2 linked regions of the Homo sapiens genome follow. The protein of the gene in region 1 purifies or fractionates together with the protein of each later gene. This does not show direct contact. Each region holds a gene or a part of one and is shown on either strand. Other genes may lie near its edges.

What was found. Proteins that work in one complex are often made in the same cells at the same time.
Region 2: the proteins of C1QTNF8 (region 1) and AGGF1 purify together in Homo sapiens (affinity purification with mass spectrometry; one large-scale study listed by BioGRID and IntAct). This does not show direct contact.

What each region holds. Positions count from the first base shown.
Region 1 is NC_000016.10:1,094,057-1,097,803, reverse strand, and holds the start of C1QTNF8 (complement C1q tumor necrosis factor-related protein 8 precursor), read left to right. Parts: upstream 1-1,559; 5' UTR 1,560-1,648; exon of another isoform or gene 1,649-2,015; 5' UTR 2,016-2,189; intron 2,190-2,870; 5' UTR 2,871-2,881; coding exon 2,882-3,089; intron 3,090-3,747.
Region 2 is NC_000005.10:77,040,258-77,043,904, reverse strand, and holds part of AGGF1 (angiogenic factor with G patch and FHA domains 1), read right to left. Parts: intron 1-3,647. UniProt on the Homo sapiens protein: Promotes angiogenesis and the proliferation of endothelial cells. Able to bind to endothelial cells and promote cell proliferation, suggesting that it may act in an autocrine fashion.

The DNA.
Region 1 (3,747 bases):
TCCCGGGCCGTTCACCCACCCCTCAGCCTCCCTCCACCCTGCTCTGTGCGTGGGGAGGCTCTGGGACCTGCCCTCAAGGGGGACTGTCAGGAACATGCCTCTCTTTTTAGGGGGCAGTTCTGCTGGCGTCGGGGGGCACTGAGGGGCACAGGGTTCCCTGTGTCTAGGCCTCAGGGACGCTCTGGATACTTCTGAGCTCCATGGGTGCCCATTTCACGGGCATGGGAGGCTGAGGCTCAGACCCAGGGCACAGCAGAGTGTGGGCGTCCGCCCGTCTTTCTCTGCAAGCCCCAGGAGCACACTGTCCCACTGGGACACATCTGCAGAGCTGTGTTCTCGCCGCCCAGGGCACAGCCACGCTGAGCCGGCTCGGTCGGATGCAGGTGCCATAGTCACAGGCGCTCAGGTCTTCACACCCCATCTGTGTCACCACAGCCAACAGGGTGAAGATGGCTGTCCCCAGAGGGGGCCGCTGGGCCTAGTGGGTGCCGCTGCCAAGGGTGAGCTGTCACCGCCCAGGGCCACCTGGAGGGGGGAGCCTGGAACCGGCTACAGCTGGTGCGGTCCCCACCACAGCCCTCCCCAGCCCGTTGCCCGCAGCCTGGCACACGAAGCTCCCACAGGGGGGACCCCTTGGTCTCCCCTCACCTCCTGTCCTCCTTTCCTCCTCGGTCTTTAGCATGGGGGTGCTGAGGGCCAGGCCAAGCTGAGGGGCTGCGGGGAGAGCGGGACCCCAGGTCGCACACAAATCTGCCGAGGGGACTGAGCCAGCTCGGGGCCCCTCCCCGCCCACAGCCTGCTTTCAGGCAAGGCCGCCACAATTCTCCTGCCACGTCCAGCACCTCCCACAACAGGGGCCGGCTTGTGGAGGAAGGACCTGTGGGGAATGGCCGCGTGTCCGTGTCCAGAGGCCCAGGGTCGGAGCGGGACAAGGCCAAGGTGCTGTGTGGGCTTGGCCTGGGGCCCACAGAGAATGGAGCCCCCGCCCGCTGAGGCCTGGGAGGCCTAGAAGTCATTCCCGCGAGTCGTCCGGCCCAGTCCTTATCCGCTGAGAGGCGGGGCTGGTGCGGGGCCTCCCCAGGGGTGTCATGAGGGAATGAAGAGACCCCACGGAGCCTGGGGAGGCTGCGCTCCTGGGCTCCATCCAGCCTGGCTTCCCCGCCAGCAGCATGAGGGCTGTGCGTCACCCGGTGGCTTGGTGGCCATGGGGGCCCCGTGCAGCATGGAGGCCCTGGTCTGGGCCCCGAACACGGGCCTCGGCCTACAGCCCCCCCGCCGGGCCCGCCCAGCCACAGCTTCCATCTGCCTGCTTCTCCTCAGGGCGCCGCACCCCAGGCGGGCAGCAGGCTTGGTTTCCCGATGGAGGAGAGCTGCGTGCCCACGGCACCATCCCCCAACCCAGCCGGCCAAGACGCCGGGCCCCAGCCCCGCTCATGGGCACGGGGCTGGCAGGAGGACCCTGGGGCCGCGAGGCAGGCTTCGCAGTGGACACAGGGGCCCTGCCAGGATCCTGTCCAGGGCTCGGCGGAGCTGGCCTCTCGGCCTGTTGCTCTTGGACAGCCCAGAGGAAGCCACGGGCGCCCAGGCGGGCATGAAAGGGCTCTTTGACGGCTGGGTTGCTGGGACAGTAACACAGACGGCCGGCCAGGCAGGGAGCATCCCTGAGACGGTAACAGGAAGCACAGGGCCTGGGGCTGGTTGTGGGAGTCTTCACAGCCGCCCTGGGCAGGTCGGGCTCCCCCTGAACCCCAGCGGAGCATGATCCAGCCCTGATTGTCTGCCAGGCAGGGCCAGGGGCTGGGACGGCCGGGAACTCCGTGGGGGCTCCTGCAGGCCTCCGTGCATGCACACACCCACTCCTGCCAGGCTCCCTCTGCCGGAGGAGTCCAGGGGGGCTCTTGTGGTGTCCAGTGGGGCCAGGGGGTGAGTCAGGGTCTGCTGAGCTCATGGGGAGGCAGGCAGAGGGTGTCTCAACTGCCAGAGACATTCCACCCACCTGGAATGACCCACTGCAGGAGGAAGGACCTTGCCCTGTGCTACAATCCCAGAGGGCTTCCTGAAGGAGGCAGCCTAGATCTTTGTCCAGCAGAGCCCATCTTCAGGGAATATTGAGGATCCCGACCCGTGCACCTGCCCTAGCGGAAGACACTCCTGGCCAAGCCTCCAGATGTGGCTGTGAGGGGAGTGGGGTAGGCAAGGCCCACCTGGCAGGGGGGCCAGGCTTGTTGGGGCAGCTGCTGTTGGGAGGGGGCCTACCTTGCTCAGGGGGACCCAGGTTGGCTCTGGCTTCCCCTCGGCACCAAGGTGGGACCATCCTTCCCTAGTCTGGGGGAGGCAGAGGAGTGGCCTCCCGAGGCCCCTGCAGGCCCTGCCCTGGGGGCTCCGGACGAGAGGCTCTCTGGGCCTGGCTGAGACGGTGCCTCTGTGCACTGTGCAGGGCCCCCCACCCCAGGCCAGCCTTGGGGGGCCTTTCCCTGGAGCAGACCAGCCACCACGCCCCAGGGCTCTGCCCAGCCACAGTGGGTGGGGCCTTGGGCGGCTACCCGCTCCTGAGTTTAGAGGGCTGTCTCAGAGACCTCTGTGTCCCACAACGGCTTCCCCACCATCTGCCGGGTGTGGGGGCCCCAGCTTTGGGGACCAGGACTCCCCGACTCCAGGTGTGCAGGGTGCCTGGTGCGGCCCAGAGTGTAGCAGCCCCTGAGCCTCGGCCTTGGCCTCACCCACTGGGCCAGGACCGTCCGTGCCCAGGCAGAAGCTCCCGCCTCCACTGGCTGTATTCCCAACGGGGGCAGGGCCGGGCTGCCGTAGGGTCTGGGGGCTCCAGCTGGGGCACCTCCTTCTCAGTCCCTCCCCTCTTTCCTCTCCCCCAGCCCTGGCCAAGATGGCAGCCCCCGCCCTGCTGCTCCTAGCACTGCTGCTGCCCGTGGGGGCCTGGCCCGGGCTGCCCAGGAGGCCCTGTGTGCACTGCTGCCGCCCGGCCTGGCCCCCTGGACCCTATGCCCGGGTGAGTGACAGGGACCTGTGGAGGGGGGACCTGTGGAGGGGGCTGCCTCGAGTACGGCCCACTATAGACATCGAAATCCTCAAAGGTGAGGCCCGTGGGTGCTGCCTGCATGCTCCCCCACCAGGACCCAACAGCCCACAGGGAGTGGGGAGCACCTGGGGCTTGGGAGGAGGGGCGGGAGGGGCACGCTGAGCACCAGTGTCTGCCCTGGCAGCGCTCCCTGCACAGGGACCCCTGGGCTCCCCCCGCAAGCAGGAAGAAGCCTGGCTTGGGGAGGGACCCATGAACCAAAGTGGGGTGCTGAGGATCCTGGGGAAGGGGGCCAGGGTTCCTGAGATCCCCAAAGTAGCAGCCCCTTGGGAAGGGAGCCTGGGCAGCCCGCTTGCTCTGAGACCCCTTGACACGGCTGCGCTGTCCCGAAGGCTGTACTAAGGTTAGGCTTGGGTAGGACCTTCCCAGCCTTCTCATTCTTTAACACCCAACGCAGACCGTAGCTGGCCCTGACCACCCATGTCCCCACCCTCTCGGTGGGGACGGCCTTGCCACAGGCCTTGGTCTAGCCACACCTTTGGAGAACGGCTTCTCCCCATCTTACAGACGTGGACGCGGAGACTGGGAGAGGGGCCGTCACTTGCAAAGAGTGTGTCCTTACAGTGACCCTTGAGCCCCAGCCCCTGGCCTGGGTGCTGGAATGGGGGAGGCCTGCCCAGCCCGGCCCCGACCCGTGGCTTTCGTTTGTCCCC
Region 2 (3,647 bases), on another chromosome or scaffold:
CCCCGTCTGGGAGGTGACGAGCGTCTCTGCCCGGCCGCCCCGTCTGAGAAGTGAGGAGACCCTCTGCCTGGCAACCACCCCGTCTGAGAAGTGAGGAGCCCCTCCGCCCGGCAGCTGCCCACTCTGAGAAGTGAGGAGCCTCTCCGCCCGGCAGCCACCCCATCTGGGAAGTGAGGAGCGTCTCCGCCCGGCAGCCACCCCGTCCGGGAGGGAGGTGGGGGGGATCAGCCCCCCGCCCGGCCAGCCGCCCCATCCGGGAGGGAGGTGGGGGGTCAGCCCCCCCGCCCGGCCAGCCGTGCCATCCGGGGGGGGGGGGGTCAGCCCCCCGCCTGGCCAGCCGTGCCGTCCGGGAGGGAGGTGGGGGGGTCAGCCCCCCGCCCGGCCAGCCGCCCCGTCCGGGAGGGAGGTGGGGGGGTCAGCCCTCCGCCCGGCCAACCGCCCCGTCTGGGAGGTGAGGGGCGCCTCTGCCCGGCCGCCCCTACTGGGAAGTGAGGAGCCCCTCTGCCCGGCCAGCCGCCCCGTCCGGGAGGGAGGTGGGGGGGTCAGACCCCCGCCCGGCCAGCCGCCCTGTCCGGGAGGGAGGTGGGGGGGTCAGCCCTCCGCCCGGCCAGCCGCCCCGTCTGGGAGGTGAGGGGCGCCTCTGCCCGGCCGCCCCTACTGGGAAGTGAGGAGCCCCTCTGCCCAGCCAGCCGCCCCGTCCGGGAGGGAGGTGGGGGGGTCAGCCCCCCGCCCGGCCAGCCGCCCTGTCCGGGAGGGAGGTGGGGGGGTCAGCCCTCCGCCCGGCCAGCCGCCCCGTCTGGGAGGTGAGGGGCGCCTCTGCCCGGCCGCCCCTACTGGGAAGTGAGGAGCCCCTCTGCCCGGCCAGCCGCCCCGTCCGGGAGGGAGGTGGGGGGGTCGGCCCCCCGCCCGGCCAGCCGCCCCGTCCGGGAGGGAGGTGGGGGGGTCGGCCCCCCGCCCGGCCAGCCGCCCCGCCCGGGAGGGAGGTGGGGGTGTCGGCCCCCCGCCCGGCCAGCCGCCCCGCCCGGGAGGGAGGTGGGGGTGTCGGCCCCCCGCCCGGCCAGCCGCCCCGCCCGGGAGGGAGGTGGGGGGGTCAGCCCCCGCCCGGCCAGCCGCCCCGTCCGGGAGGGAGGTGGGGGGGGTCAGCCCCCCTGCCCGGCCAGCCGCCCCGTCCGGGAGGTGAGGGGCGCCTCTGCCCGGCCGCCCCTACTGGGAAGTGAGGAGCCCCTCTGCCCAGCCAGCCGCCCCGTCCGGGATGGAGGTGGGGGGGTCAGCCCCCCGCCCGGCCAGCCGCCACGTCCGGGAGGGAGGTGGGGGGGGGTCAGCCCCCCCGCCCGGCCAGCCGCCCCGTCCGGGAGGTGAGGGGCGCCTCTGCCCGGCCAGCCGCCCCGTCCGGGAGGGAGGTGGGGGGGGTCAGCCCCCCGCCCGGCCAGCCGCCCCGTCCGGGAGGGAGGTGGGGGGGGTCAGCCCCCCCGCCCAGCCAGCCGCCCTGTCCGGGAGGTGAGGGGCGCCTCTGCCCGGCCGCCCCTACTGGGAAGTGAGGAGCCCCTCTGCCCGGCCACCACCCCGTCTGGGAGGTGTGCCCAACAGCTCATTGAGAACGGGCCAGGATGACAATGGCGGCTTTGTGGAATAGAAAGGCGGGAAAGGTGGGGAAAAGATTGAGAAATCGGATGGTTGCCGTGTCTGTGTAGAAAGAAGTAGACATGGGAGACTTCATTTTGTTCTGCACTAAGAAAAATTCCTCTGCCTTGGGATCCTGTTGATCTGTGACCTTACCCCCAACCCTGTGCTCTCTGAAACATGTGCTGTGTCCACTCAGGGTTAAAAGGATTAAGGGTGGTGCAAGATGTGCTTTGTTAAACAGATGCTTGAAGGCAGCATGCTCGTTAAGAGTCATCACCACTCCCTAATCTCAAGTACCCAGGGACACAAACACTGCGGAAGGCCGCAGGGTCCTCTGCCTAGGAAAACCAGAGACCTTTGTTCACTTGTTTATCTGCTGACCTTCCCTCCACTATTGTCCCATGACCCTGCCAAATCCCCCTCTGTGAGAAACACCCAAGAATTATCAATAAAAAAATAAATTAAAAATAAATAAATAAATAAATAAATAAATAAAAAAAGTTCTTGTCTTGGAATTCGCACATTTTCAAAGAAGAATGGCAAAGATGAGTAGTTATGGGAGCGAGGCTGGACCAAAATATCACAGAATGCTTTCCATGTCTATTCTCTAGTTTTTCAGGCAAGGCCATTTGAGGAGCCCTACATATTCTTCTTCTATTGTTAGGGAGAGGTGCTTTCACAACCTAGCCTTCTTCTTTTTTTTTTTTTTTTTTTTGAGATGGAGTCTCGCTCTGTTGCCCAGGCTGCAGTGTGGTGGTGCGATCCTGGCTCACTGCAACCTCCGCCTCCCAGGTTCAAGCGATTCTCCTGCCTCAGCCTCCCAAGCAGCTGGGATTACAGGCATCTGCCACCACACCTGGCTAATTTTTGTATTTTTAGTAGAGACGGGGATTCACCATGTTGGCCAGGCTGGTCTTGAACTCCTGACCTCAGGCAACCCGCCTGCCTCGGCCTCCCAAATTGCTGGGATTACAGGCATAAGCCATCACACCCGACCTACAACCTAGCCTTTCAAACAATCAAACCACTAGTAACAAGCACAAGCCATTAAAACAGAGATCTTGAAAGCAAACAGAAAACTGATTTTTAGTATTTTAGTCACATACTCTTCTATTCCTAAGTATTGTTCACAAAAAAATAGAACAGAAGCAAATCAAATAGGAGAACAGAAAAAATCTAACAGAATCCTAATTCCTTATGTGAACTTTACAATTTAGTATCAAGTAATTTTTCTTTGGTTAAGAAAAGAAAAACTGGCTGGCACAGTGGCTCACGCCTATAATCCCAGCACTTTGGGAGGCTGAGGTAGGCAGATCACTTGAGCTCAGGAGGTCGAGGATGCAGTGAGCCATGATGGCACCACTGCACTCAACCTGGGTGACAGAGCAAGACCCTGTCTCAAAAAAGAACAGGACAGGACAGAAGGACAGAACAGGACAGGACAGAAGGACAAGACAGGACAGAGATAGGACAGGAAAGGACAGGACAGGAAACCATGAGATAAAATTTCAAGAGTAAGATATCAAATAGTTGCCACAGTTCATAAAATATCAATAAAACAAACAAGCCTCCTTTATAACCTATAAACCACCAAACTTACCTGTTTAGAGAGTAGAAATAAAGAACACTGTTAACTTTTTATATTTTCCTTCTTTCAATTTAACATTGCATCATCATAAGCATTTTTGGGGTTCCCCTTAGTCTTTACAAGTACCATCTGAAAGCCTACATAATACTTTTTTAAATTAAATGTAACTATCGCTTTCTTAACCATTGTCTTGCAGGCCATTTAAACTATTAATCCTAATAAATATGTTATCTCACTCCACAGTTGTCAGCAATGGATTTTTTTTTTTTTTTTAATATTTTCCTGGCCGGGTGCGGTGGCTCATGCCTGTAATCTCAGCACTTTGGGAGGCAGAGGCAGGAGGATCAGCTGAGGTCAGGAGTTCGAGACGAGCCTGACCACATGGAGAAGCCCCGTCTCTACTAAGATTACAAAAAAATTAGCCAGACGTGTTGGT